Linked DNA regions of Homo sapiens: all the other regions are reported to be linked to region 5. Evidence: microRNA targets listed by miRTarBase, many of them from high-throughput screens and not tested one by one. Region 5 holds a microRNA gene; each other region holds the end of a gene's coding sequence.

The links. Region 5 holds the annotated microRNA hsa-miR-30e-5p (UGUAAACAUCCUUGACUGGAAG, at 2,864-2,885, shown strand). A microRNA usually pairs through its seed, bases 2 to 8, with sites in the 3' UTR of a target mRNA and lowers its output. Matches are read on the target gene's strand: a 7mer-m8 pairs with bases 2 to 8, a 7mer-A1 pairs with bases 2 to 7 and ends in A, and an 8mer does both.
Region 1: miRTarBase lists NAPG as a target of hsa-miR-30e-5p. Seed matches in the 3' UTR shown: 7mer-m8 at 3,169-3,175 and 8mer at 1,344-1,351.
Region 2: miRTarBase lists GXYLT1 as a target of hsa-miR-30e-5p. Seed matches in the 3' UTR shown: 8mer at 3,480-3,487.
Region 3: miRTarBase lists TGFA as a target of hsa-miR-30e-5p. Seed matches in the 3' UTR shown: 7mer-A1 at 2,052-2,058.
Region 4: miRTarBase lists MIER3 as a target of hsa-miR-30e-5p. Seed matches in the 3' UTR shown: 8mer at 2,946-2,953, 7mer-A1 at 2,790-2,796, 7mer-A1 at 2,459-2,465, 7mer-m8 at 1,792-1,798, 7mer-A1 at 1,476-1,482 and 7mer-m8 at 1,139-1,145.
Region 6: miRTarBase lists SEMA6A as a target of hsa-miR-30e-5p. Seed matches in the 3' UTR shown: 7mer-m8 at 1,389-1,395.
Region 7: miRTarBase lists TRAPPC9 as a target of hsa-miR-30e-5p. The part of its 3' UTR that is shown has no 7-base or 8-base seed match.

What each region holds. Positions count from the first base shown.
Region 1 is chr18:10,549,457-10,553,804 of GRCh38, reverse strand. It overlaps NAPG (NSF attachment protein gamma), which reads right to left. Exons shown (of 12, transcript NM_003826.3): 12 at 1,041-3,728. The coding sequence ends at 3,585. Among named protein-coding and RNA genes, the nearest start is that of NAPG, 26 kb to the right of the region's middle.
Region 2 is chr12:42,083,876-42,088,208 of GRCh38, forward strand. GXYLT1 (glucoside xylosyltransferase 1) reads right to left here. Exons shown (of 8, transcript NM_173601.2): 8 at 1-4,072. The coding sequence ends at 3,911. It also overlaps the pseudogene LOC101929308. Among named protein-coding and RNA genes, the nearest start is that of GXYLT1, 59 kb to the right of the region's middle.
Region 3 is chr2:70,446,771-70,451,086 of GRCh38, reverse strand. It overlaps TGFA (transforming growth factor alpha), which reads left to right. Exons shown (of 6, transcript NM_003236.4): 6 at 221-3,803. The coding sequence ends at 228. Among named protein-coding and RNA genes, the nearest start is that of TGFA-IT1, 33 kb to the left of the region's middle.
Region 4 is chr5:56,919,724-56,924,097 of GRCh38, forward strand. MIER3 (MIER family member 3) reads right to left here. Exons shown (of 13, transcript NM_001297599.2): 11 at 4,192-4,319; 12 at 3,968-4,110; 13 at 1-3,862. The coding sequence ends at 3,405. It also overlaps a transcript of SETD9 not described here. Among named protein-coding and RNA genes, the nearest start is that of SETD9, 12 kb to the left of the region's middle.
Region 5 is chr1:40,751,508-40,755,881 of GRCh38, forward strand. MIR30E (microRNA 30e) reads left to right here and starts at 2,848; the gene lies at 2,848-2,939. It overlaps NFYC (nuclear transcription factor Y subunit gamma), which reads left to right. Exons shown (of 10, transcript NM_014223.5): 5 at 1,644-1,739.
Region 6 is chr5:116,443,181-116,447,491 of GRCh38, forward strand. SEMA6A (semaphorin 6A) reads right to left here. Exons shown (of 19, transcript NM_020796.5): 19 at 375-4,311. The coding sequence ends at 3,433. Among named protein-coding and RNA genes, the nearest start is that of SEMA6A-AS1, 2.2 kb to the right of the region's middle.
Region 7 is chr8:139,727,307-139,731,680 of GRCh38, reverse strand. It overlaps TRAPPC9 (trafficking protein particle complex subunit 9), which reads left to right. Exons shown (of 23, transcript NM_001160372.4): 23 at 453-3,956. The coding sequence ends at 620. Among named protein-coding and RNA genes, the nearest start is that of KCNK9, 26 kb to the right of the region's middle.

The DNA.
Region 1 (4,348 bases), not on the chromosome of region 5:
TACTTAAGTAGTGGGAAAAATTTTTTAAAGTTTTAAGGCTGTTTAAATTAGGCTCCTTGAAAAATTTAAGAGAGTCAGATATTAAAAAACTATCAAGGTAATGTAACTCTATGGGAGCTAATTAGCCAAGTTTGTGAAGTGGAGGTAATTATCTAACGGCATTTTATTCAGTGTCCTTGAGTATTAATTAAAAGCCATGTAAGTTGTTTCTATGCACAAAACCTTGTTGGAATAAAAACAATTCAGTGGAAAGTTTGTTTTCCTTTTTCAAAATTGGTGTTTGCCTCAGTCCTTCTTACCTTCAAGACGTTTTTAATATCCTTAAATTTAACTCATCACATTAAAGTCATTATTGAGGGTTTCTTGATGAGTCGAATGAAAGCAACACGAGGGGTGACAGCAGCAGGTGGACTTTGCTTATCCTTCCTGGCTATCTCCTCTTGCTGCTACAAACACAATAGTGACCACAAACCACATTCAAGACACTCCAAGGTGTCCTGGAAGAAACACAAAATCACACGATGTCCAACAGCCACTCGTTCTGCATTCTTTCTTACTTCAACTTCTCCTGAATCCAGGTATCAAATTATATTATTAATTTCCATTCCATGAAAGACAGGGATAATATTACATAGTTAGCATCCAATAAATGTCTGATTGTAAGTAAATCTGCTAGTATTTAAGGTGCTAATTATGTAAACAATTTCACATCAGTTCTCTTAGCCTCCTAATCATACATGGTTTTATCTCACTTAACCCAATCAAAGAATTACTCTCTTGGAAGAGGTATTAGTCTTTCATCTCACCAAACAGCAGTATATGTAGTATTACAATAACTGAATGACTGGTATTTTAAGAAGCTCAAACAGTTTAAATTCCCAAAGGTACCTTACTCCCAAAGAGCAGAAAAGACAACTGCAGATAACAAAATACTGTCCTTGTAAAATAATGCTGAAGTCATATAATTAAGAGAATGTGTCCCTGGAAAAAAGAAAATTAAAACAAGCTAAACAAAATAAATAATACAAAGAACAATTATATTTATATAGTTTCAGGTTTTATTTTCATAATTATCTTCCTATAGAAGCAATAATCTGTATTTCCATAACAACACATTTAATATTCTACTCATCAGAGTTGGGAAAAATAGGAATAAAGCAGATTCCATACAGAAATACCGTACTCTGCATATGTACAAATAAATTCAATATATTAAATCTATTTTGTAGCTGGACTTCACTTACAATGTAACAGAACATTGAATATTAGATTCTGAGCATATTCATGCAAACTTCCACTTTGGTGAAAGTGATGACAGTGGAGTTCTGGAAGACAATTTTCCTTGTAAACACCAAGTTTTGCACTTTGGACTATGCTCTCAAGATAGAAACTTACGTGAGTGGAAAAAGAAAATGTATAAATGTGAAACAAATATTCCTTACCACACAGAATAACCCTGACAACAAACAATATCCCCAAGTCCTGGTTATTCAATCCTCACCGTGGGCAGGAAGGGTGAAGGAGGCTGCACCTGGACACAGCCTTTTGTGTGGTTTAAAGCATAGCTGCGCTGCTGCTACAGAATGCACTTCATCATCACCTTTTTTAAAAAAAGTTTTCAGTACATAAGAAGAGTAAAATTAAAAAATTTTTTCCCCCAGACTTTAATGGGTAATATGATCTATCTATACATAAATAGTCTACAGTATCTTTAAAGTATTGCCAAATCTGTTTAAACAGATTACTAATTAGCTCAAATGAGCATTAATGTAAGACTCCAGAAGTTTCCGATTGGATCTAAAGGATACAAGCTGCAATGATGGGATCTTTGAAACACTGCAATGTCCTTAAATGCAAATGTCTACATATAGCTTGTTCATAGTTAATCCCAATATCATTAATAAAAATGAGGTGCTACCTGAAGAACTATGCCAATAAATTAAGGAAGAAAAACATTAAATTTATTAGCATTTTGTATCAGACTTACAATAAAGACTGTATACCAACATCCACGCACCCGAGACCACCTCCCAAAGGAGGATGTTATTCTAAGCTCTCCCGCAGAACTGTGACTAAAATCACTTCTGATACTCCACCTTAGTGTTTTCAGGAAGTCTAGCAAAATTAAGCAACCTATACTCAAATAAGGTATGACTCTAAAAGAGACAGAGACAGGGCATGGATGAGCAGGAATTACTTTGGCAGCGTGTACCTGCAGAACGCACACTGCTGGTGTCTGTAGCCTCTTTCCAATTAACAGATTACGAGATGGGTCTAAGCCACACAACAGGGTGAAAAAGGAATGTTTCGAAAACAGCATTTTAGGAAATAACTATAAAGGATCAATATATTGGCAGTGCGGTGTTTTAAATATTGTCTTTCTAAAACAATTCTTCCCTTTCAGCTAAGTTTTCATAGTATATAGCATTTTCCATGTCAAGTTATGACGGAGTTACAATCAAAATAAAATAAACAATCAAAATAAACTGTTTTGGAGGGAAGAAATATATCTGTATTAGACTGATGGAAACATTACCTCATTCTTACAATGTTAGAAAGATATTCATAGGCTGGGTGAGGTGGCTTATGTCTACAATCCCAGCACTTTGGGAGGCCAAGGCAGGCAGATGGCTTGAGCTTAGGAGTTTGAGAACAGCCTGTGCAACATGGAGCAACTCCATCTCAACAAAAAAAATAAAAAAAAAATTACAAATTAAAAATAAAAACATTAGCCTGGGAGCCGTGATTGTGCCACTGCACTCCAGCCTGGGCAAAAGAGTGAGACCCTTAAAAAAAAAAACAAAAAACAAAACAAACAAACAAACAAACAAAAAGGTATTCATTACCCATTAGCTCCTATTTGGTCAAGAACCAAGTAGATTTGAAGACAGTCACTGTATGTATTTTTTAGATAGAAGAAATACCCACACTTCAGAGAGGACTGAAGATATTTATAGATCACTTCAATATGCTACCTTCAAAATTTTTCAAACTCATAATATATAAGAGCTTCAATGCATCTTTTATTGGGCTAAATAATATTGTAAGGCTCAAAATAACTTCCTGTCCCCATCTCATCTCTGAAAAGACTTAATAATTTAAATGTATCTAACATCATGGGGGATAAATTTACTTTTCAAAACAAAAAAATTTTAAAATGATTTATCAGTAAACATCACCTTTAGCAGCAATTATTAAATGAAACGTAAAAAACAATTCACTAACAGTAACTTACAAGTGTCCAAGAGAGAATACCTATGCTTATTACCCCTTTTGTTTAGAACATAATTTATGTATAATTTGGCTTGCAAATTTTTTAATCAATGTATTAAAACATGACAGTACATTTTCTGTTAATTCCTGCTGGTGTCTTAGAAAAGCTCTTATGGAAAGAAAAAGATATGCTTCACAGGTAATGGATACAATGAGTGATTTGGGAAGATGGTAACTAAAAACTAGTCTTTATTAGGATCCAAAATCATGACTGTAATGAAGTACGGATATCCCTAATCTATTCCCAAGTCCTTGAAATGGCATGTCAGGATTTTACCTTTGTTTCCCTTTTCTTTTCAGCAAGCAAAATACTAGCATAGTCCTCCTGAGTATTCATCTTCCTCTTCATCAGCAGCCGTGGCAGTGACACCATCAGGCTTGGCCTGTGGTGTTGCAGGTGATTTCTTCTTGATTCCCCCTCCTGGAACCACCAAACTCAGGCCCAGCTTAGCATACTGTCAACAACAGAACATGTTCTTAAAAGCTGGATAACTAGAATCCTAACATGTTTTACTCAGCTCTAAAAAGACACAGCCTGGCTCCCCACCCTCAGGAACACCAATTCTACCATTCAGATGGAAAAACAAAGCCCAACAATGCTGCTCCCCAGATGCCTCATGACCATGGTGGGACAGGTACACAACTAGTAAAAGTTTCAATTATAAATTTTTTTTAATTAAAACTTTAGAAATATATATATTTTCAAAACCTATGTAAGACGTTATTTAGAAAAAAAATTATCTACATATATCATTATAATAAACAACTGAAGGCCTTAAGTTGATCTGATACTATGATGATACTCTAAAGGCCTAAGGCCAAACAGGTACTTACAAATCTACTGAAAAAGACAAATGAGAAAAAATAAAAACTTATAGTCATGGTTCACTTTATGTGCAAGACATCATGTGAGGATATTTCTCACACACTGACTAATGTATTCTTCACAACAGTCCAGCAAGACAGGTACTAGTGGCTTCATTTTTACAAATGAATTAACTGAGGCTTAGAGATAATTAATGACCTGCAACACACAGCTAGTCCTCACAGATTTTCATAGGTCTACTGAATTACA
Region 2 (4,333 bases), not on the chromosome of region 5:
TAGTTAGTCTTGCAGTCTAACACTTGGGATGGCTAAAACAATAAAGTTAAAAAGGAAGATACTTGTATTTCCACAGGTCCTAGCTCACAAACTGGGATCCACTAAAAAAAAAAGACATAAAATGTTGAATTGGCACTAAATGATCAGTGAGTAGGGTGATTGGGAAACAACTCTAGTACTAACAAACCAAATACAGCAGGCCCTGCTGCCCCATTCCATGGAAGTCAGCACCTTTCCTGACCCCAGAGAGCCCAGGCAAGCAAACTGATGTAGTGTGAGGGCTACAACTCAAAAAGTAAATGTTTCCACACCATTTCTCTCCATCTCTACTTCTCAATTTTCCATACACTCATTCCATCTTTTCTCTTACTCTGCCCTTTGCCATCCCCATTCTTACTCCTTTCTCTTTCCTCACCCCTTTTCTCACTTCCTCTCTTTTCCTTCTTTTTTGATTTAGTTACATCATTCTTTTCTTCTCTACTTTCTCTTCCTGAAAAACTCTTCCTTACATAAACAAATTCATACTGGAGATATATGTCAGAAAACATTCAGCCTGAGTAAACTGAACGCTCTGTACAGAAAACAACGAACAAAACAGAACTTCAACAGTAACACTGGCGTGGCATAATATAAGCCACGCAAAATGCTTCCAAATCCATTATCTCTTCTGAGTTTCATCTTGTGAGGTTTGAAGGGTACACTGATTGTACTTAAAAACCTAAGGCACAGAGAAGGGTAAATAACATGCCTGAGTTACTAAAAAGAGAATCCAGATCTAGTTCAAAATCTGGTCTTCTTTTCACTATACCAATAACATCTGACTGGAGGCAAGATGAGAGAGCAATGAGTAAGCACTAATGTTATTTCAGGGCCTTAAAACCCTTATATATTATGAACTACTCTTCATTAGAAAAAAGTATGCATTTTCTTAAAGCATAAATCACAATATATATTTTTAAAGGTTTCCCAAGTTCTTTTCTACTTCATACAAATGAAGTTTGACTGCATTTTAAAGGCATCCCACTTTGGTAATACTGTAGCCCAGAGATAGTTCTGAGGTCAGAATACATAGACTCAAATAATAAATCATGTAGTTTATATAAACTGCATAGATACACTATGTTTTATGAAAGACCATTTATATGAAGATGGAATACGTTCTCTAAGTTGTCCATCTATAATTTAACCTCTCATCAACTCCAAGAACTGCATTTCTTTAGAATTCAAAAGAATTACCTTGTCTAAAGATAAATTCAGAAAATTCATTTAAAAATTATTATACATATTTTGTGATACCTTTAATTTTAGGTAGAAACAGTACCCAAAAGACAGTTTTCACTATAATTCAATTTATGGTAAAATGATCAATTAGGTCAGGTCTAAATAAACCAGATGAAGAACCTTCCAACTGATCCACAATGTAGTGTGTGTGACAGTGTAAATAAGCCACAACATGAGTGAGACCACAGCATACAGTCCAGTTGGATTAAACTGTGACCACGCTCTACACAAGTCCCAATCAATTAGAGCCCATGGGGCTGAGATTCTCCGTTCACTGAGGAAATTTTATCTTATCAAACTTACTAATATAAATTCATATCCTGTCATTAACCCCAAATGCTTCCTCTAATATTTCAAAATCACATTTATAATCCACCAAACGTGCCAAGAATTGTGGTATCCTAACTTGAACTTTCAAGTTGGCAAAATAATTTCCAGTGGTTCTCAAAGTAGCTAACATCAAAGTCATCTGAGGTGATTGTTAAAAACGAAATCATCATGTGACTTATATTCTGTTGATTCTAACAAACCAACTAGAAGATGATTTTTGAGATAATCAGGGAAATTTGCTTAAGGACTGGCTATGAGATGAAGCCGAAGGACTGCTGCTGCCTCTGTTAGGTGTGATATCGTGGTATCTACCCAAAGTGTTCACAGCAGTGAAATAACACAATGTATGGGATTTTAAGATACTTAAGCAAACAAAAAAATGACAAATGAAGCAAACATGGTAAGATAGTGATAAGTGTCAGATCTGGATGTTGAGTACCAATGCACTATTCTAGTTTTGTGTAATTTTTAAATTTCTTCATTAAAAATTGTTTTACAGACTCCCTCCTAGACACAGCATGCCAGAGTCTCCAAAGGCCTAGCTCAGGAATCTATTCTTAAGCTCCCAACAAGAATCTTACATAGTCAGGCAGGCAATGATCATTATTTGAGGACCATTAGAAATGATCTAATACATACCCTCCAAACTTCACATTTTTAGTATTCTCATTTTCTACTCAGTAAGCTCAATTTCACAGTTTCTTATATTCACCATGGCATTCTGCCAAGGAACTACAACTCGTGTTCTCTAAACCCATCTGTTCTAAGAATGCTGGACTGGTTATCAACTTCTAATGCACCCTGCTTAAACTTTCCTCTCTCAATTTGTCCCTGACTGAACTGCAGACGACAGAACAACTGTACTAACCATCTCTTTCTGCATATTCCATGTCTCCACAGAGGTCACTGTGTCTTCACAAAGCTAACTGCCACAATTTTCACAGGTTGTATTTTTCCTTCATGATTTTCCATTTTCTACTTGAGCATTAAAATATCAGGGAGAAAAAGAAGATAACCATATAGATAATCATATTGTTGGTAAAATAAGATATGTGCCCCAGCATAGTATATGCTAAGTATTCAGAATCTATAGTTATATTAGCTAACAGGTCAAGAATGCCAAAGAAGTAATTTCTCAAGATTTAAAAAAATTAACTGTCTTAGGTGATATTCAAAAATGCACATCAACCCAATTAAAACCACATTTTCTACAGCTGGATGTAACAATCTTATTCCAAATCATCCACTTAAGTTGTTTAACTTACTTAAAGTAAGGCTCTAGACATTTGCTTCTTCAAAAGTATCTTGCAAGGCCGTTATGAGGTAGAAGACAAGTTTAAATGGACCATATTTTTCTACTCCATTGTAACTAAAATTACTACTCACAGGAAGTATATAGCTTATGCATTTTGGTCCATCACACTTTCCACCATCATGAGTATACTCTTAAGGTTCTCACTTTACCATCAGCATAATATATTTTGCTTCCAGAATGCCCAGTAAAGCTGACGTTTTTCATTTAAAGTGATTAAAAAAAAATTCCCCAAATATCTATTTAACAATCTTAGATCTGAGTTTTGGCAAGACAGTTTAATGCATACAAAATGAAACACTACATTTCTCACTCTCTCTCACACACAAACACGCACACACAGATTAAAATCCCAAAGTTTTCACTATTTTTCCTCTACCTTACACAGCTCAATTTTTAACATGCAGCTTACTTGTAATCTAAAAATAATTTTAAACATGATTGTCATAAAAATATTTTAAAACAGAGATGAAATGTATAAAGGCACACATAGATTGTCAATGGTTACATCAGTTACATCACATTTCTTCAGAAACAACAGACCTGTTTCTGCTCCTGTAAACAAACTTTTTTCTCACACTTTTAAAGTGAGGTTAGTGCTGACATAAAATTATTGCTCTACTCACAGTCTTGAGTGTTGGCACTGTTTGAGGTACATTTTCTCCATCTACACACCCCTACCACTCTTGAGAGTATGAGTCAACAGAAGTCTGCAGGTTAAACCCATTCAATAGTATTTTCATCAATACTGGAATGATAGCAAGTAACATTACAAAACATCAGAGATAAAAAATGTTCAATGTTGAGGCCCAAGATTTTAACTTATTCTTCATTACCTGAAAATACTGCTTACTTAACTTCTTTAGGAAAAAAAAAATTATTCTGGAGATGAGTAATTCCTTCCTGAATACTTCATCCAAGACGATTCCTTCACACTTATCTTCTGATTCTTTGTTTTCATCCATTTGATTAAGCAGTCACCAAGAATCACTTTTCCTTTGGTGATCTGGCATAACGATCTCTTACACTTTTTGCTAGTTGTTTGATAAATATTTTGTAAATTTTTCCACAGTATGTATGCACTGTTTTTTGTAGTTCCAGTTCTAAAGGTTTTAATAAGGAACGGATGTTGTCATCTTCAAAAGAACACTAGAGAAAGAAAATTTTAAAAAATAAAAAATTTAAAAGGCAAAGGTACATATGTAAGTTCAATTATTTTCCAAACTTCTTCAATCAGTTTAATATGAACGATCTCCATTTAACGTCTCACAGAAATTAGATGTTTAACAAATATTTTCAATAAATTAAACAGAACTATTATCTCCCATTAAAGAAAGACAGCCATGGTAAATCTCCGGGGGAATCCTGGAGAACATGCGCAAGGGCAGAGAAGACTGAAATACTGGTTAA
Region 3 (4,316 bases), not on the chromosome of region 5:
ACTTTCAATCAGTCTCTCTAGCTTCCTTTGGCACTGAAAGTACTAGGTCAGAGGTTGCGGTCCCTGAGACTGAACCAGCAGAATTTGGACTCGGGCCTAACTGCCCGAGAGAACTTGGTGACATTGGCTCTGCCATCTCCAAGTCTCTTTCCTAAGCTTATTTTCCCAACGTGGCCAGGGTGTGGCCCACAGTGCTTAACCTGTTTTTCCTTCCTGCCAGTGGTCTGAAGAGCCCAGAGGAGGAGTTTGGCCAGGTGGACTGTGGCAGATCAATAAAGAAAGGCTTCTTCAGGACAGCACTGCCAGAGATGCCTGGGTGTGCCACAGACCTTCCTACTTGGCCTGTAATCACCTGTGCAGCCTTTTGTGGGCCTTCAAAACTCTGTCAAGAACTCCGTCTGCTTGGGGTTATTCAGTGTGACCTAGAGAAGAAATCAGCGGACCACGATTTCAAGACTTGTTAAAAAAGAACTGCAAAGAGACGGACTCCTGTTCACCTAGGTGAGGTGTGTGCAGCAGTTGGTGTCTGAGTCCACATGTGTGCAGTTGTCTTCTGCCAGCCATGGATTCCAGGCTATATATTTCTTTTTAATGGGCCACCTCCCCACAACAGAATTCTGCCCAACACAGGAGATTTCTATAGTTATTGTTTTCTGTCATTTGCCTACTGGGGAAGAAAGTGAAGGAGGGGAAACTGTTTAATATCACATGAAGACCCTAGCTTTAAGAGAAGCTGTATCCTCTAACCACGAGACCCTCAACCAGCCCAACATCTTCCATGGACACATGACATTGAAGACCATCCCAAGCTATCGCCACCCTTGGAGATGATGTCTTATTTATTAGATGGATAATGGTTTTATTTTTAATCTCTTAAGTCAATGTAAAAAGTATAAAACCCCTTCAGACTTCTACATTAATGATGTATGTGTTGCTGACTGAAAAGCTATACTGATTAGAAATGTCTGGCCTCTTCAAGACAGCTAAGGCTTGGGAAAAGTCTTCCAGGGTGCGGAGATGGAACCAGAGGCTGGGTTACTGGTAGGAATAAAGGTAGGGGTTCAGAAATGGTGCCATTGAAGCCACAAAGCCGGTAAATGCCTCAATACGTTCTGGGAGAAAACTTAGCAAATCCATCAGCAGGGATCTGTCCCCTCTGTTGGGGAGAGAGGAAGAGTGTGTGTGTCTACACAGGATAAACCCAATACATATTGTACTGCTCAGTGATTAAATGGGTTCACTTCCTCGTGAGCCCTCGGTAAGTATGTTTAGAAATAGAACATTAGCCACGAGCCATAGGCATTTCAGGCCAAATCCATGAAAGGGGGACCAGTCATTTATTTTCCATTTTGTTGCTTGGTTGGTTTGTTGCTTTATTTTTAAAAGGAGAAGTTTAACTTTGCTATTTATTTTCGAGCACTAGGAAAACTATTCCAGTAATTTTTTTTTCCTCATTTCCATTCAGGATGCCGGCTTTATTAACAAAAACTCTAACAAGTCACCTCCACTATGTGGGTCTTCCTTTCCCCTCAAGAGAAGGAGCAATTGTTCCCCTGAGCATCTGGGTCCATCTGACCCATGGGGCCTGCCTGTGAGAAACAGTGGGTCCCTTCAAATACATAGTGGATAGCTCATCCCTAGGAATTTTCATTAAAATTTGGAAACAGAGTAATGAAGAAATAATATATAAACTCCTTATGTGAGGAAATGCTACTAATATCTGAAAAGTGAAAGATTTCTATGTATTAACTCTTAAGTGCACCTAGCTTATTACATCGTGAAAGGTACATTTAAAATATGTTAAATTGGCTTGAAATTTTCAGAGAATTTTGTCTTCCCCTAATTCTTCTTCCTTGGTCTGGAAGAACAATTTCTATGAATTTTCTCTTTATTTTTTTTTATAATTCAGACAATTCTATGACCCGTGTCTTCATTTTTGGCACTCTTATTTAACAATGCCACACCTGAAGCACTTGGATCTGTTCAGAGCTGACCCCCTAGCAACGTAGTTGACACAGCTCCAGGTTTTTAAATTACTAAAATAAGTTCAAGTTTACATCCCTTGGGCCAGATATGTGGGTTGAGGCTTGACTGTAGCATCCTGCTTAGAGACCAATCAACGGACACTGGTTTTTAGACCTCTATCAATCAGTAGTTAGCATCCAAGAGACTTTGCAGAGGCGTAGGAATGAGGCTGGACAGATGGCGGAAGCAGAGGTTCCCTGCGAAGACTTGAGATTTAGTGTCTGTGAATGTTCTAGTTCCTAGGTCCAGCAAGTCACACCTGCCAGTGCCCTCATCCTTATGCCTGTAACACACATGCAGTGAGAGGCCTCACATATACGCCTCCCTAGAAGTGCCTTCCAAGTCAGTCCTTTGGAAACCAGCAGGTCTGAAAAAGAGGCTGCATCAATGCAAGCCTGGTTGGACCATTGTCCATGCCTCAGGATAGAACAGCCTGGCTTATTTGGGGATTTTTCTTCTAGAAATCAAATGACTGATAAGCATTGGATCCCTCTGCCATTTAATGGCAATGGTAGTCTTTGGTTAGCTGCAAAAATACTCCATTTCAAGTTAAAAATGCATCTTCTAATCCATCTCTGCAAGCTCCCTGTGTTTCCTTGCCCTTTAGAAAATGAATTGTTCACTACAATTAGAGAATCATTTAACATCCTGACCTGGTAAGCTGCCACACACCTGGCAGTGGGGAGCATCGCTGTTTCCAATGGCTCAGGAGACAATGAAAAGCCCCCATTTAAAAAAATAACAAACATTTTTTAAAAGGCCTCCAATACTCTTATGGAGCCTGGATTTTTCCCACTGCTCTACAGGCTGTGACTTTTTTTAAGCATCCTGACAGGAAATGTTTTCTTCTACATGGAAAGATAGACAGCAGCCAACCCTGATCTGGAAGACAGGGCCCCGGCTGGACACACGTGGAACCAAGCCAGGGATGGGCTGGCCATTGTGTCCCCGCAGGAGAGATGGGCAGAATGGCCCTAGAGTTCTTTTCCCTGAGAAAGGAGAAAAAGATGGGATTGCCACTCACCCACCCACACTGGTAAGGGAGGAGAATTTGTGCTTCTGGAGCTTCTCAAGGGATTGTGTTTTGCAGGTACAGAAAACTGCCTGTTATCTTCAAGCCAGGTTTTCGAGGGCACATGGGTCACCAGTTGCTTTTTCAGTCAATTTGGCCGGGATGGACTAATGAGGCTCTAACACTGCTCAGGAGACCCCTGCCCTCTAGTTGGTTCTGGGCTTTGATCTCTTCCAACCTGCCCAGTCACAGAAGGAGGAATGACTCAAATGCCCAAAACCAAGAACACATTGCAGAAGTAAGACAAACATGTATATTTTTAAATGTTCTAACATAAGACCTGTTCTCTCTAGCCATTGATTTACCAGGCTTTCTGAAAGATCTAGTGGTTCACACAGAGAGAGAGAGAGTACTGAAAAAGCAACTCCTCTTCTTAGTCTTAATAATTTACTAAAATGGTCAACTTTTCATTATCTTTATTATAATAAACCTGATGCTTTTTTTTAGAACTCCTTACTCTGATGTCTGTATATGTTGCACTGAAAAGGTTAATATTTAATGTTTTAATTTATTTTGTGTGGTAAGTTAATTTTGATTTCTGTAATGTGTTAATGTGATTAGCAGTTATTTTCCTTAATATCTGAATTATACTTAAAGAGTAGTGAGCAATATAAGACGCAATTGTGTTTTTCAGTAATGTGCATTGTTATTGAGTTGTACTGTACCTTATTTGGAAGGATGAAGGAATGAATCTTTTTTTCCTAAATCAAGACTGGAGTGTTTCTTTAATGAGATTAGGATATTGCTCAAGGAAATGAAGACTTTTCTCTGCAAATATGAATGATGAGGAAAAATTAGATGATCTTTTGCAAAATGTGGAAATCCTATAATTAACCATAGTTGATCCCTGTCTCCTTGAAGAATTCAAGTTCTCTGAAGCTCTTCCCAGTGTATAAGTACTTAGTAGACTATGTGTCCAATAATGCTAATTGATGTGGTAGAAAATATATACAACCTCTGCCACTGCAGGAATTGAAATCTGGTCGAGAAGACAGACTGATACGCTAAGAATAATTCAGGACTATTTCTAGACAATACAAATAAGAGATGAAATTATAAGGTAGAGCATATATGTTAACAGCTGTGGTTCTCAAAGCATGGTTCCAGACCTGCAGCATTGGTATAACCTGTGAACTTGTTAGGAATGCAAATCTTTGGGCTCCAGCCCAGACCTACTATACTGTGGGGGTGCTCCATACTCTCTCTGCCCTCTGGGTGA
Region 4 (4,374 bases), not on the chromosome of region 5:
TTCCTCTTGAACATCTGATACTGAAACTTGTTCTGATTGTCACTAATTTATCTCATACTCACAGGGTACTTATTTCAAACTGGGACAATTGGAATCACTGGTCATCTAAGAGGAATATTAATATCTACCATATTTAACAATAAAACTAATAGTTTCCTCCATTTAGTGAAAAAATTAGGAACTTTTTAAAAAACATAGTAACGTCAATATTTTATAAATTATTTCAATTTCCATTTGTAGACAATGTGCTTTGAAACTCTGGGCAAACAATCTCCTTGGTGGTCAGGTTTATTTGTTAGTTTACATTCAAAGTTGAAATATTCACTAGAGACTTTGGTTAAATTAAATAGTATCACTATGCTCTATTAGATCTGATGTTCTCAAATATTTATGAGCCTCAACATTTTAAAAATTAAAAAGGAAATGATTGCACAATTCTTTGATCTAATTGTACAAATTTTAGTATTTTTTAAACAGTATTCTACATCCTTCAAGTAAATTCAGCAGCTGACCATGACAAGAGGAAAACTAAACATTTAAAAAGCTAGCATGAAAAAGATGAAGTACAACTAACAAATGTATTGCTATAATCACAGCACCAGTTACACTTCTAAATGAATCCACTGTCCTTTTCAAATTCCCTGTACATAAAAGATATATCAGCCAACACTGCAACTGCTCACCATGAATTTTTGGTTTGTTCATAAGAAAATAATGGGGCAAAGGAAAAAAAAACAAAAAGAATTTATCACAGTTTGTTATAAGAATTGTGCTTAACACTTGATAATAAAGGCATTATTGTTTCTTCACATGATTGCAAATCCGGTTGTTTTCTTGCTTCCAAATGCAATTCTTTTAATAAACAGTAACAAATTCTCTGTTAAGATGTTTAAACTGAGAGAAAAAAAAAACCCAGTAAATCCAGCTTTTAAAAGAAAATTCAATAAATAGCTATTTTACATGGATAAAGTCATAGTGGTACAATTTATGAATGTCACATCAAGCATGCACAAAAATGGTATTATACATGGCAGAAGTAGTCAGAAAATATTGAATTAGATCTAAAAAGATATGAAGAATTTACACTTATATACAAAAATCTTGCAAATTATTGCCTCATTTTAACAAGGAATTAAAAGTAAACATTACCAGCTAGTTAGCACTCTCTAAGAGGCTAAAATCAGATTGACATTTAAAAATCTATTAAACTAGCTGGAATTTATTTTTCTCTCATACCATTTTCTGGATTTTGGTCAAAAATCTTTATTTAAATAACTAAAGTGTCCATTCAACTTGCTGATAATCAAAACTTTAGATAAGAAACACTGTTTCCATCTTATATCAAGACCCCAGCAATGCATAGATAAACTGAATATATTACTGCATCAGCTACTGAGAATGGGCATGTTCATTTAAGTGCAACTGGTATTAGCATTCAGTCATCTTTGTGTAAATTATTTATACAGACCAGCCACTGTAAACCCAGAGTGAAAATTAAGGTTATAACAATGGAAGATTATGGCCAGTATCTTACTAAATTATAGAAAGTGTACTGATTTTTAATAAAAGAAATAAGGTTCAAAGTTTAGCACAACAACACAGCAATAAGAAGCTGACAACTTGGATAAAAATACAAGAAAGTAACACAGAGCCCAGGCTACCCATTATTTACTGTGTGCATACAGGAATGCTATACTTCAGATGTATAAATTAGAGACTGATTTTAAGTTATTAATTTAACTACTTTTTGTCCACTGTGCTAAACTAAATTTTATACTAATGTGCTACTGCGTAAACACTTCAAAGCAATCTTCATTAAAATGCTGCAAAGAAAAACAAGAATACACATCATCCAAAACTAAGGATGTCATTGCAGTTCACAGTTTGTATAATAAATACCCTCCCTTTCAATCACTACTAAGATCACTACATCCTATCTACTCATCAGCACAACCTTGAAGCAACTTATACTTACAAATATTAGCAATGCAGCCAAACATTTGTTTTTTGCAAAGCAACTAGTAAAAATCAAGAATTTTAATTAAGACGGTGCAAACAACATAATTCTCTATTTTAACAGTACTACAAAAGCAAAGATTACATCCTAATACTGTATTACATATTGTTTGATTCACCTTATAACTTAAAAATGCATGTTTATAGCACAAAAATGGCCAAAGTTTAGGACAATGGCTTCTCATTCACAATATTTGGAATAAAAATAAAACTGAGTTTGAGATACATCTGAACATCTATCAATTTTTAAAACTTAAAAGTGGTAATGTACCATTCTATTTCAGATAGGAACTCACATTATTCTTGCCAACTGTTCAAGCTTAACAAAAAAGCTTAAATATACTTCAAGGTTCTACTGCATTAGGTATAAAATCTAGAAGTCCCTCTAAATATTAACACTTTGAACTGCAGTGCTACAAACAACTTAAAAGATGTCCCAAAATGTAAACCATTGAGTGGCAACATCCTAGGCTTTGTAGACTGTGCCTCTGCAAGTCGACTGCCTCAGGATAAACTAAATTATCAATGACTGGTATGATTTTTAAGATTACAATCTTGACAATGGTGGACAAAACCCCATCTGAGTACCACATCTTCAAATGCCAAAACTGTAGCCAATAAATGAAGTTACACAGAAATCTCCTGGCAGTAACATGACCAATTCTGTGTAAGGTAGCCCTGGTCTAGAATTTTGAAACAGGATCCAAGCAAGCGTCTTCATTATTTGCACACAGTTCCTTGTGCTGGCTTCCATAAAGATGGACTTGCTGTTTTGTAAACTGAAGTGCTCTAGTTGAATAACATGAGAGAAGTTTCCATTTTTAAAAAATCCTTGCATGTTTGTGCAGTTTAAAGAAACCTACCCCTGCTTTTATTAAGAAAATAAAACCAAAAAAATGCTACATTGAGCAGGGATCGGGATCGGTACCTGTAAACATTGTTATTCCACTGCATCCATTACGGCAAAAGGAATTTACACAAAAACAGGCCACACCATTCAGTTCAGAACATCTGTGCTGGTTTTGAGCTGGTGGCCTCTGTCTACAGGTTTTAAAATTGGGAGTGAGGGCAGTGGGGAACACAAAAGAATAGAAAAAGAAGGGAGTGGGGAAGAGGTATTGGGAGATGAGGAAGAGAGAAGCAGAGCTTAAAGCTGCACCACAGAGTTCAATCTTAGTTCCCAACTCTGCTGATCATAGTTCATTTCCACATTTATGGATTGAAAAATGAAAATACTCTTGATAAATCAAGATATAGTTCTATACATACTGACATCACTGATGTCATAGTGAGAAAGGTTCAAACTTCCAGTGAAAGACTATGCAAACCTGATAGCTCCCCTCAAGTTTACTGGTGCTGCACACGCAGTTCCGGGATCCTCACTCAGGTCACTCAGAGTGTAGGGCCGCGTGCTGATGCAGAGCATGGGCACTGATGAAACCATTGGTCTCGTTGGCAGAGAGACTGCCAAAGTCAGCCACAGAAACAGCCATTTTGGCACTGGTGATGTGATGTGTGTGATTTTCAAAGTCCACACCCAGGTTATTTACAGAAACTTCATTCATAAAGGATTCAGGGACGGCAATGCCCATTTTCAATCTTTTTGCTGGTCTCTCTGACTCTTCACTGCACATGTTCATAGGGTTTAGCTCCGAGTGATAAAATCCAGTCTCAAATAAATTAAAACAATCACTTTCCCCATTGCTGGGCAGGGTGAGTAACTCTTCTGTTACAACAGGCACATGATTAACTTGTCCACGGGGTGTGTTGCCCAGTGGAGGAAAGCTATCATCCAAACAATTCACATCTGTGGGGTCGCAGACGGTTGCTACACTGTTGGTCAAAGCTAAAAAGGAATGGAAAATTGTTTAAGTAAGTGGTCCTATGACATCAAACAGAGGACACAATTTTGCAACAAACTGTACTAAATGCAGAAAGGTCTTCATTTTACCTGTCAAGTCACTGGCAGTGAAGGAGTTGAGAATGTTTAGCTGTTGATCAGGAATAGGCTCAGGCCGGTTAGAAGTTAAGGCTGAAGCATTTACCGTCCCACCCAAAGCTTCTGTTTCATCTACTAAACGATCCATATAGTCCCTGAAAAACACACCCCAGTAATTTTATGACTATATATTACAGTTAAAAGTAAGTCTTTGAAGGCAAGGCCACAGTACTTACGTAACTCCAGGGTGATGGTTATATCTTTTTTTCCCAAATCTTGTCTGTTGAGCAAAGTAATCATAACGTTCAGATTTCTTCCACATATAGTAGAATGCTACACACTCAGCAACTGTCCTAGTTCTCACCTAATGAAAAAGTTGAATTTTTAAAAAACCAACAAACTCAACCATTTTTTTAAGC
Region 5 (4,374 bases):
TGATCCTCCCACCTCAGCCTCCCAAGTAGCTGAGACTACAGGTGCATGCCACCATATCTGGCTTAAAATTTTTGTTGTTGTTGTTGTAGAGATGAGGCCTTACTATGTTGCCCAGAGCTGGTCTTGAAACTCCTGGCTCAAGCGATCCTCCTGCCTCAGGGAATTTAAAAAGCAAATAAAAATTTTAGGAAGACCAACTTAAGTATATCTATGTTTCCAAAATACTCTAGAATATTTTATTATATGCTGGAGATGTTTATTATTTTTCTTTTTCCCCTTTTATTCCATCAATAAATGAGCCATTTAGATAGATTGAGTAGATGACATCAAAAAATGTGACACTATATTGTAGTCATCTTAAATGAGTTCTGGCAATCTTAAGATGGGCCCTGCTTCAGTTGGGAGGGTTTATCGTCAAGCTCGTGGTTGGCAAGAAGGGCGGACTAGAGTTTTGCATTTCAGAGGCTTGGGGCCATCACAGATACAAGGGAAAGAAAAAAAAAATTTCCATCCTCTCCTGTTTTGTCCGATGAGTCACCTTTTAAGGTGTGGTATATAGAGTTTGCTAAGGATTTCTGTTAGTGTGTTAACATTTTCCCCAGCATTTTATTATGAAAAATTTCAAACATAAGCAAAGTTTACAGTGAATACCTGTATACTTACAACCTAGATTCTACCATAAACATTTTACTATGCTTATTTTATTCTCATATCTGTTTATCCCTCTATCCATCCTTCAAGTAATCTGTTTTTAAGTGCATTGTAAAGTTTACTTTGCCCAAATACTTTAACATGCATATCATTCACTAGCGTTCAGTGTTTTTTCATATTGTTTTTCCTTTTGCTTTAAATCTTTAGTAAAGTACACAAATCTTAACTATACATAATATGTTGGGTTTTAGTAAAAATCTTTTAATTTTATTATTCAAAGAAAGGAAGTATCACACTTGGAGAGAAACCCCCATTAGAGCAGGTCTTGGTTTCAGTATCATTAGCCTTCTGACTCCTGTGTTCTCTTACCTCTCTTGCTGCTGTTCATAGCACAAACTATGAATATCAGAATTCTCACAAGCTATGTTTTTTATTTGGGAATTCAGAACTGCAATGATAAACCCATGGTTTAAGTATTGCAATTTAGAATTCCCAAATAAAAATCATAGCTTGTGAGAACTTAGTGTATATAGATCCAGTGACTTGAAAATGTTGCAAAAAGTTATTGAATTAGGATTTTACCTAATTCAATACTTGTGAACCAAAGGGAAAATATTATTTAGGGCCTTAAAAAGATTATAAACCTAACTTTGCTAACCCACAGAATGACCAGAAACCTGCTAATTGAGATTACTAGGTTTGTAATTTGAAAATCGCGGGGAGAGGATCAAGCAGGAGTAGCAGTGGTTGGAGGCTCAGATACCCCATTTTACAGTGTGAGTTACATGTATCTCTTTCTTTTTTGTTGATGGTTGCCCACCAGGTCTGATCATTTAAAGTATATGAGTTTGGCTGTGCTTATTTCAGCTGTAGACTTGCCCGTAGGTGTTTAGTTTGGCTTAAAAGTCGTCTTACCTTACTTGGAGGGTATAAAGCCAAGTGAACTAGTTTCTCCCCAGGCTAATTTTTCACACCGCTCTTCTTTGTTACAGAGAAATGATATCGCCATGGCAATTACAAAATTTGATCAGTTTGATTTTCTCATCGATATTGTTCCAAGAGATGAACTGAAACCTCCAAAGCGTCAGGTGAGCTGTGAAGGGATTGCAGTTGCTGCTGACTGAAGAGCGCTTTGTATACTGGTGTCAGATACGCTCCTTCTCTCTCAGCACAAGTCATTTGCTATTCCTTTTGCTTCTCGTTTCTAGACCAGATTCATTCTTAACATCTCCTTCTGTTACTCATTTCTGGATACTTTTAACTCAGTGCCTCCGAAGTGGTATTTCAGTGAAAATAGACAAAATGAAAATGAAAGACTTTAGTTACAAATGGTAAAGTTAAGCTCATTTCAAGTTATCTTAGGAAGTCTATCAGAGCTCTTCATCTGGGATAGGAGAATATTCCCAGAAAGTTATAGATTTTAGATTTTTAAGAAACAGCTTCTCTATGTGCACAGTGGCATTTGGAGTGAATGGACTATGTTTTCTCTTCCTCTATATTGTGGTTCATTATATCTTTATATAGTACCCTGACTGCACACTAGAATCACCTGTTGGGGTTTTAAAAATATCAGCGCCCAGGCTCTAACCCACATCAGCTGAATCAGAATCTCATGATGGAGCCCAGGCATCAGTACCTTTTAAAACTCCCTGGATGCTTTTAATGTGCAGTCAGATTTGAGAACCACCACTTGAGCTGTTTTGCAAGCAATCACAAGAAAGAATATGAACGTCTGCCTTCCCGTCTCTTCTGCCTGCCCCTCTCCAAAGGTCACACTAGTTGTTTTTTCAGCACCTTGGGTGCATATAGCTCTTAATTGTGATTGTAATAGACCTCTGTCCTTTAGAGCTCATTGTTTTAAGCATGCAGATTGCATGATTCACTAGGTGCCACTTGGGAAATTGTGGCAGAATCTCACAGGAGCAAAGCTGTGCCTTGTTCTGCTTGCTTTGTTATATAAAACTTTATTTTTAATGAATTATTTCATAGTATATTATCCTTAGAAGCAGTCATTCAGTGACAGCCATTCTCCCCATCCCAGCCTGTATTAATAACCAGTCAGAGAAAGTCTAGGAGAAGTGGGCATCCTAATGAACATTTGTAATTCTGACCCTGCATGAGGGCCTTTGGATTAGCAAGCCCTCTGTCACCTCCTTACTAGAGTAGGGTGTGCCTCACTGCGTCTCCGTTCTTTCTGGGCAGTCTTTGCTACTGTAAACATCCTTGACTGGAAGCTGTAAGGTGTTCAGAGGAGCTTTCAGTCGGATGTTTACAGCGGCAGGCTGCCACGGTCGTCCCCAGCTACGCACCGGCTTTGAAACATTGCAGGTTTGTGCCCACAGGCTCAATTCCTCCTCTTGGGGGTCCTTCCCTCCTCTCTCAGAAGTCACAACAAGAACTCAGGCCATTTATCTTCCTTCAGAACAAAGAGTATCATACACCTGCTTTCCTTGTTGAAATTGTTTTCTCCTTTTGTCTATCAGAAGCCCCCTTTAAAACAAGATTGTGAGCTCTGTGATGAAATCAGGCCTTGCTCACTCTCATTGTGCTAACTCCTTGTTTTCTGTGGGCTGCCTGCTGAATACACTGGCTGGAGAGAAGGGTCACATCCTGTCAGTTCCTCCAAATTCCTCAGTGCTTCTGGGTCTCTCGGGGTGTCATACAGCTCCTTATTCCATCTTAGCCAGACTCAAAATGCTATGATCCATCTGATTTTAAAGTGTGTCTAGCTGAAACAGCTTCTTGTTGCTTGGATTTAGTTCTTTGTAGGTGTTCGAGGCATTGATTGGCATCGTATTCGGGACAGCTGCTGCCTGGCCTTTGAAAGGTTGAGATTGCTGAAAGCTGGCCTGAAATTCTAAGATAGCATTTTTAATCCTCTGTAGACATGAAGTTTTCCCAGGCTTCAAATTGGCTGGCACCTCCTAAAGTCCTTTAAAACGCCTACTCTCCAAAACCCACCCTTTCTGAAGGAGGCAGCAGTTCACTCTTGCTACTAAAGCGAATGTACTTTTTTCCAGTCAGGGCTGGTTGCACAACACTGTAGAGATGGCCCTAGGATGTGATGCTGCTCTTCTCTGGCACTGTTCGTCAGTCTCAGCTTCTGGAAAGATTCCAAGAGCAAGCCCTGTAGTTGGGGAGGCCACTGCTAAAGTTGAGCAAGTGCCCCATTCTGGATTGATCCAGTCATTAAAGCATTGTTCTGCCACTTGGGGCAACCTCCCACTGCTGGGAAAAGGAACTAGTCAGAAATACTGAATTGTGAGTCCAAGGCCCTGACTTCTCAAAGATACTTGAGAGTTTCGCTTGTTCTTCAGAGAAGCAAGTAAAGATTATTTGAAGGTAGGAGGTAGTTGAGGCCTGACTTCTGCCCCACTAAAGCTATTGAGTTGAAAGTTCCTGCCCATTGAAATGTCATTATCTTTTCACCCATTTCTTTAAACCAAGCATAATCATTTCCTTGCTGGCTTGACCTCCATTGGCAGAATGAGTCTTCATAATGCAGAAGAGCCTTAGATATGCCTTCTTCCATTCCAGTGATTTGAGAACAGTTGTGCCTTGTCCTAACAACACAAACCTAGGTGCCTCCACTTGATTCTCAGTGTCCTAGATACTGTCTAGTTCATAAACAGTTTAAGAGGATGTAGTAAGCAGCATAGGAGGAGCTCTTGTCCTGCTCTCACAGCTTTTGGCAAGAGATATTTTGGGTTCTGGAAGGGGTTT
Region 6 (4,311 bases), not on the chromosome of region 5:
TACTAAAATCCTAGCCTTGATCTCTTAAACTATCAAGCCTACCATAAATGTTTGATGATGAACAAGCCCATAAAAAGAAAATGCATAAAATGAATAGAAGGAGCCAATGCATGCTCTGCTTTTTAATTACCGGTGGCTTCTGCTAAAATCCTGCTCCAGGCTGGGTTTGAGCAGAGAAACACGTCAATAATTTGGGTGGGGGTGGCTGGGTGTGGACACTGCAAACAAATACATCAAACTATACCGTTATGTATGCTTTGGAAGCCAGATACAAATGGAGGAAAGAGTAGCATCATACCCACAAAGGGTGGGGAGGAGAGCAGCTTAAAAAGGAAAAATTAAGAGATAAATAAAAGCATTCAGGACACAAAAGATAATATAGAACAGTCAGGTTTTATTACTTTTAAGTAATAAAGAGCCTTTTCCTTGCTTTTCTTTTTTCCCTTTTTTTCTTTTCTTTTTTCTTTTCTTACAACATACATTAAGTCGTGAATCAGATGTTAGGGGATGTGGAGATGGAAGGAAAATTGGTGACATCACAATATTTTTACAACTTTACAACAAATATAAATCTGAGTTTGTTGCATCTACCAGTGTCTAGCAAGGGTGGAAAGCAAAGGCACACTCGGGTTTATGGACCCTCCCCCCACACACAGTGGGGAAAAAAACTGGGGAGAAATACTTAAATGCAGAAGACCAGCTCAATACATGTGGGTATTTTAGGGTTAACACCAGAAGTGATGGGTTGTGGGGGTGTAGGAATGTGGATGTAAGTTTTGACACAGGTCTCCTTAACAGCTGAGGCAGTGATGCCTACAAACACTGGACAAGACAGCCGCTTACGTCAATGATGGGTGCTGCACTGCCAGTACTCTCGGGAGTCAAGCATGGGAAAGAAGGGGGCAGGGGGATACAGACCCATCACCTTCCTAATTTCTGCATTTCTAGAGAAAATTCAAGGAAGAAAACAATATTTCAGGTTCTAGGAAATACTTCAGGGTTTCAGGAGACAGAGTTCACAGGATGTGAACATGGATTCCATTACAAAAGCCAAAAAAAAAAAAAGTAAAAACAACAACAACCACCTACTCCTAAACAACAGCAAAACTAATGGACTTTTGGAACAAAGGGCTCTCACCCACCCTCAGCTAAGTACTCAGGTCTGAAGGCAACCACACTGATTATGGAGGCTCCACTTTTTCACTATCCAACTCAAAACTGTCATTGTCAGTCTTTTTTTGAATTCTTTTTAAAGACAAAACTAAACCCAGAAGATCGAACTGGAAATAAAAGCAGACAAAGAGACCACCAAATATACTGTTTAAAAAAACAACAACAACACTGCTCATGGTTTACAGTATGTGGACAGTTCCTTTGTTCATGATAGAGTAAACAAAAGTCCCTTTTGTGTGCTTGAGCAAATGAAAACCAAGAGGAGAAAAACACACACCACCTCCCATCCCCTAAAAACATAATTAACAAAATAAAAAATAAAATAAAAAATCCTTTGCCCCAGTCAACGTTTTTGCAGCATCCATTGTGGTCGGCCTTGTACTTGGAGTTACTCGTTAATCACAGCAGGGACCAGCCTGCCTGCATCTATTTCCATGTCATTTCTTTGTGTGCACTGCACGTGTGTGCTGTGCACATGGCTTGGAGACTCCTCCCAGGTGTCTGCCCAACCGCGCACCGCCTGCTCTCTAGCCAGTGGACGCAGCAGAAAAGAGGAATGGGACGTTAGTCCCTTTTCTGCTAGCAAATAAGGATATCACCGTATTGAAATAATCTAAGGGAAGCAGGGAGCTCTTGAGGATGAAAGGGGATTTGACACACCCACAACAACACTGGGGTCCATGCTTCGCAGCACAGCCAAAGGGTGGTTCCAGTTGGCACAACTAGAAGGCAGTGTGAATTGGAGGGTGTGGTGCTGCCCAGCGTTCTCAGGCTGTCGCATGACAACTATCACCACTGCATTCTTCCATCTGCTTGACTCCAATCTTTCAGAGGGCTGGAAGTGGGGCAGAGGGTGGGGAAGGGAGGGTTAAATAAATATCTGCACTTATTTCAAAAGGGGGAACAGTTGATCATAAAGAGTTTACAAGTGTACACAACTCAAGGTGTAAGGCACAAATTTACATGTGGAAAACAGGCTATTCACAGATGTAACCCCACGAAGAACCCGTGTGATCAAATCATTAATTTATGCAAGGTAGCAGCCAGCATATTAGTTCACACCATTTGTGGATTTTGTTTGCTGTCTCACATGCAAGGTGAAATGGGATGGCATATTGCAAGCTGGTGCCTTCACAGAAAGTCAGAACCATGGACAAAACCATGTTGGCATCAATGAGATATGATGTGCCATTCTAAAAGCTTTCTCTCCTGATTGCTTTAGAAATTAGGATCTGGAAGGACTTTAACATGAATTAGTTTTTTTGCATGTTTATAGGCCAGAGACCTGACCAGGCAATGAACTGATAGATTTAAATAAATATTCCCCTCCTAACTTTTTCCTTTAGCTACAGACCAGACAGTCCAAACACAAAGCTCAGAATTCCAGCTCCAACTTATTTACTCAGTGAATTTATTGTAAAAATAAAGAAACTCAATTATTCCAGTTAATGGATTTCACGTTAAATAGTTTAACTTTCAATGGGCTTTCTGAAGAGCTGTTCATAGGATGATATTTGGAAGAGTCCTTTCCTTAAGGAAAAAAAGGGTGAACAATAAATAAAGAGTTACTTGCGTTAACGGTCACGTTATTTCATTAAAAGAGAGGAGGAGCAGAAATCTATGACATAGTTGCCCAACATGGCATTTATCTGCTGCAACAGAAAGCTGTAACACTGGCGGGCATTTCACAGTATTTGCGCATAGTAAACTTCTGCCATTGTTAAAGTCTGAGTTAGAATTATCAATGAATTCTTTTTTTTTTGTCTTTTTAAATTTTCTTGATTTTAAAAAATGTATTTGTGTTTTGCAGGTTGGAACGCAAACCCAGTCTGGCCACGTCCCGTGAAGTTGTGGACAAAATGTTTCAGTTTCTGTTCACCTCTGTGCGTGTGTGTGTATGTGTTGTGTGCATGTGTGTGTGTGTGTGTGTGTGGGGGTGGGGGATGGGGTAGGTATGTGCTTTTGGCTCATGTTTGTGATGATAACTGAAGTCTTTTGTGGGTCCGACCTGTTGTAGGGTGTGGGGGAAAGTGAAGGAAGAGAATGAAGGTGAGTCCCCGCCGTTGCAAACCTTCACCAAACCACGCGGCCCAGTTTTCGTGAGTACCCCTGTGTCCCAGAGAGGAGGACCCAGCGTCCTCGGCTCTGCCGCAGGCCTTCTTGGTCTGGTGGGTACTCGAGGCAGTTGAGAACCTTGCTGAGCTGAGCGGGCACCTCGCCTTGCCTGCTGGTTCGACACCTGACCCCCTCCCCCTGGGATTATGTACACGCATCATTGGGCTTCATGGATGTGGAAAGGGGAGCAAAGGATGGTTTGGGGGGTACGTCCGGCTTTAGCGAGGGCGTACGCTTCAGCCCCGACCTTGTCAGTGAGTTGTAGGCGTTGAGGCTGGGCTGCCTCGAGACAGTCACGGCCTGGCCAGATGGCTGGGAGCTGTGCACCTGGATGGAGTCCACCCTCTGCGGGGCGGGCGGCGGGTTGTCTCCCCTGCCAAAGCTCTGGTTTCTGGAGAGGTGAGAGGAATTGGAGGAGTTAGTGTTGTTTCTTTTGAGAGTGGTGGCCTGGTGGCTTCTCGTGAGCGAGTTCGTGGGGTAGCTCCTCTTATAGTCAACCCCGTAGGAAGAGGAGTGGTGCATTTCCAGCCGCTTGCTTAGACCGGTCTGAGACAGGGAGGCTCCCGGGGGACCCAGGGAGGCCTCCCGCTGTGGAACTTTGGGGGGCAGGCTGTCCAGGTTCTCCACAAGGTTCACCCCATGGTTGGGACTCTTGCTGCTGAGATGTTCCTTGATGGTCTTATACTCCAGTGTGGCGGCCTGGTCCTCCAGCGCCATCTGGGCCACCTCGCTCATTTTGGGCTGGTCCACGTACTCATGCTGGTAGCCCTGCTGCGTGATGGGCAGGACCACCACGCTGGGGATGTGGCTGGGGGAGGCCCGCAGGGGCAGGTCCGTGGGAATCACAGGGGAGCCCATGGGGGGCATGTCCTTTGTGCAGGCATTGATGAGGTTCTGGTTCCTCTCCCACTCGCGGCTGCCGCGGCTGGGCTTCCGCTTCTGCTGCAGCGTTGGGGTTGACTCTGGGGTGGGGAGGGCCGTCAGGTCCAGGTGGTGCTGGTCTGCTTTAATGAGCATCTTGGC
Region 7 (4,374 bases), not on the chromosome of region 5:
TGGCATCACTGTGATGTCACTGTCACCCATCCCGTGCCTGCCGCTCCTTCCACGGAAAGGCTCCAGCCCTACGCCCTCAGCCCCCACCTCCCACCTCCTACCTCTCAAGCTGCCTCTCAGCACCTCACTGTCAGGCCCCAGCACAGGCTAACATTCCATTCCCCTCTGCCCCAACCTCTCCCTCACTCCCTCCCACACTCCTGACCCTCCCACACTCCTGACCCCCTGAGCCCCCAAACAATTCAGGAATGGGAATATTGGCAGCTCCTTTCCAAGATGAAAACTGGCTCGGAGAGGCGCAGTGACCTGCTGGAGGGGGCACTGGAGCCAGGCCTGGGCGGCCCTCGCTTCCCCCATAACACCTATGTCCAGGCAGATTCCCAGGATTCCTGGTGGCTTTGGGTGGCCCCTGCTGCTGACCAGACTGATGTGTCTTTCTCCTCCCTGCTCAGGTGCAGCCGTCCGGCCAGTCGGCCTGCCTCGGGGCCCTCCTCTTCCTCTACACGGGAGACTTCTTCCTCCACATCCGGTTCCACGAGGACAGCACCAGCAAGGAGCTGCCACCCTCTTGGTTCTGCCTGCCCAGTGTGCACGTGTGTGCCCTGGAGGCGCAGGCCTGAGCCCGCCTACTTCCGTCCCTCTTTCTGCAGGGCCAGAGGTGACCCTGCCTGGCCTCCCACACCCCCTGCAATGAGCAAGGCCTTCACTGCAGCCCCATCTCCTCCTCCTCCCCCAGACCCCTCCCAGCCCTCTCCTCCTGTTCCTCCTGTAGCATCTTTGCTGGGCTACGCAGAAGCCCCGGACATGGCAGCCCCACCCCATGCCACGCCCCTTCCTACACTGTTCCCTGGACCATACACAGGCTGAAGCAGAGGAAATCCCAAAGCGGGTGCCCATCCAGCCCAGGTCCCAGGATCCCTGCACCCATTTCTGTGACCTGGGGCCCCAGCCGTGCTGTGCTGCTCATCCCAGCAGAGGGACCTCCCTCGTCCAGCGACTTCCCTTTGGCCATAGAAAGAAATGGTGAGCATGAGACTGGGCACAGCCTGAGGGCGTGGGCAGCTTCCCACCCTCCCTGGGCCTTGGAATCCCCCAAGGCTGGTTTTCTTCCTGGAGACCCCCATGGGCAACTTGGCAGGAGAGATGGTGCCGTAGGAGGTCGTGGATGGTTGATGCCAAGAGAGGCCCTCCACCCGTGGTGGGCAAATGTCCAGGCCTGGGCTGGCAGCCCAGGGCTGTTTCTGGGTGCTCCCTGGCCCCAGGGTGGCGTCTGGTTACCATGGCTGTGTGTGTCCATGTCTGCAAGCAGTTCTTCAATAAATGGCCTGCCTCCCCCTCCCTGCCTCCCTGCATCTGCTAGCCCAGTGCAGTCCGGGGCCCCCACCCAGCCCGTCAGCCCCCACCTCAGGTGGCTGGCTTCCCAGCAGAAGCCGGACCCAGGAAGGGACGGGTTCTGAGTTAGAGATCTCACATAAGCAAACGCTGAGACAGGAATCTGGTCACCAGCAGCTTGTCTGGGAGGTGGAAGGAGGCCTGCAGGGGAGGGAGATCACCAGTGAAGGAGTGTGACTGGGCCCGAGCTGCCGCCACAGTGGGCAGCTGGCCCTGCGTTCCTCAGGGAGGACCGGAGAGAGAAAGCACACGGCTCACATCTCCCTTGAGGGCCAGAGCTGGGGTGTGTCTACACTACCCACAAGAGTCCTGTTCTGGGGGCAGGCTTCTGGCTGTGTTGACCCTTAGCTCCCCAGGTCCCAGGGAGGATAAACAGCCCTTGGTCCCCAGCAGATACCAGGCTCGTCAGGTGCCCGTTGGGCACTGAAACTCCCATGGAGTATTGGGGGACAGAGAGCGGGGCTTCCTAAAGGCCAGTTGGCCAAACAGGCAGAGCCAGGAAGTGGCTGCCCTGGCCTCCCATGGGGCAGAGTCATGTTGGCATCAGGAGGCCTGCGGGGCTGAGGGAACTTCCTGAGGACCTGAAGTCCCAGGCCCAAACCTCCCTCGCTGGGAGCAAGGTCACCCTGTGGCCTCCGGCCTAAGGAACAAATTTTTTGTTCCATCTGTGGCCTCCTGTTGTCGCTCAGTGAATGATGGGAGCACACTGTGATGTGGTGTGGGCTGGGGGCATGTGGGGGCGGGTGTCCAGTGGCCCTCAGTTCCTGGAGCTCATTCAGCATCTGCTCGAGGCTCCCCAGGGAAGGCAGCCCCAGAAGGTCTGGCTGCAGTAGGGGGTGGAGACCCCAGGGCGGTCTCTTCAGCCCTTCCGTTCAGGATGCCTCAGCGTAGTTGAGGGCCTGGCCACCTGGGCTGTTTCTGAATGGAACAAACAGCATCCATGTGTGTCAACCTCAACAGAGCCCAAAAATACGCCATTGAATGAAACAACACATTGCAGGATGATGGGCTCAGCCCAACCTCACTTGTGTAGACAATGTCCCCCCAAATTATAAATTTTCTATGCCTCAGAACGTGTCTATAACAACATGTTTAAAAGGTAGAAAGGATACACATCCCCTGTAGAAGAGTGACCTGAACTGGAGTTGCATTTGACATCTGATGTCAGCATGAGGGTGCTGGTCACCGGGGACTTGAGTACGTACTTTCCTTTCAAAAGCACAATAGATCAAGATACAGGTACACACATAGCTACAGATATAGATCCAGCCACAGATCCAGATTAGATATAGATGCATATAGAAGCCTAGAAAAGCCAATATGGAAAACTCTGGCAGTGTTTGATTCTGAGTGGCAAGCATATTGGTGACTGTAATTATTTCTTGCAGTTTTCTATATTTTTTAGTTTCCCAAACTGCAAAAAATACCCACAACAGTTACCAGAGAAAATGCTGGATGCCACAAGAAGGAAGAACCTCAAGGGGCAGGAGGCAAAGTTGTCTTCTTGGAGGAGGGGGTGTTAGAAATAACCCAGGCCTCCTGGAAAATGACCCAAATACAGCCTGGCTCTGCCAGCCCCAGGCCCTTCCCCACCCCCAGGGCACCCTTTCTGTCCCAGTAGAGAAGGTGACCTGGAGTCAGGCCTTGTGTGTGCTCCAAGCGTTTGGAGCTTTACCGTGGGATGTGGGGAGCCAGGGGTGTTGTTTGCTGGCATTTCTGTGGCTGGGTCTTTCTGGCTGTGGAGCTGTGTTTGTGGGCAGTGGCTGAGATGGAGGACCTGGGGCAGGTGTCTCAGTGACAGCGCAGTATCCTCCAGCCTCTTCCAGGGCCCCACGCTACTGGCTACCTGGCAATACAGTCCAGCAGTTGCTGCTTCTCTAGGCCCCTGGTGCATTCAGAAACCTCCTGAAGGCCAGCGGAGGGTAAGCCAGGAACAGATCATGTCCATTGCACTTCACTAGCTGAGCGAGTTGGTTCTGCCCTTCTGATCCTTGGTCCCTCAGGGCCAGGACAGGCCCGGTGACCCCATAATCATGCAGCCGTCATGCTCCGTCATCTGAAATTCACAAGGAAGGCAAGGATTCAAAGGAAGATGTCTGAGATGCTGAACTCCAGCTCAGCCACTTGTCAACTCCTTGACCTTGGACAAGTTACTTAAATTAAGCCTTGATTTTTTTTCATCTGAATAAATAGAGATAAAAATACTTATTTCATGGACACTTTCATATCAGTTTATTTGATTTAACCTCCTAGATTTTTTTTTAGCACATGATAGCAACTTCTTAATAAATACTGGGTCCCTTCTCCTAGCCTTCCCATTGCTGTTCTTTTTAATTCCATCCACATGTCCTGTGCCTGAAATATCCTGTGCCATGTGCCTGAAATTCCATTCTTCTCCTGGAACCCTTAACAGGCCACATTGCTATGCTCCGTTAGTCCCCTGCATGGCTTAATGTATTAGGTAACATGAAGCATGTAAGGAAGAACTTTCTAACACAGGTGCTGAAATGGGACAGGAAATGCTGATGGAGTGAGCTCTTTGTCAATAGAAGTATTCAAGCAAAGTCCGGACCTGTAGATGGTTTCAAAACATGTAAGCATCATTTGGGGCTTCTGAGCCTACCAGCCAAGAAATTGTCAATGATGACTTGTTAAGAGGTATTTCTGATCCCAGTAAGCAGGGAAGAGAGAGAGATGTATGTGACCACATGGCTCTTGGGGCCTCAAGCAATGTCTTAAGACACAATAAATTTTGATCAAAAAAGGCTTTCAACATGAAGGGCTAGAGATCTAGACTAAGGGTCTAGGCTAAGCCTCTTACTGAAAACACATTTGTAAGTGCATCCATGACCCGGCAGGAGAGTCAGAAATATTCACCCCAGTACCTGTGTGTAGGCAAAGTCCTGGGAGGTGAGCTGTGCACTGATGCCAACTTCCACTTTGAGGGGTTTTGCCAAAGCTGGAGTATCAATGTCTTCAGCC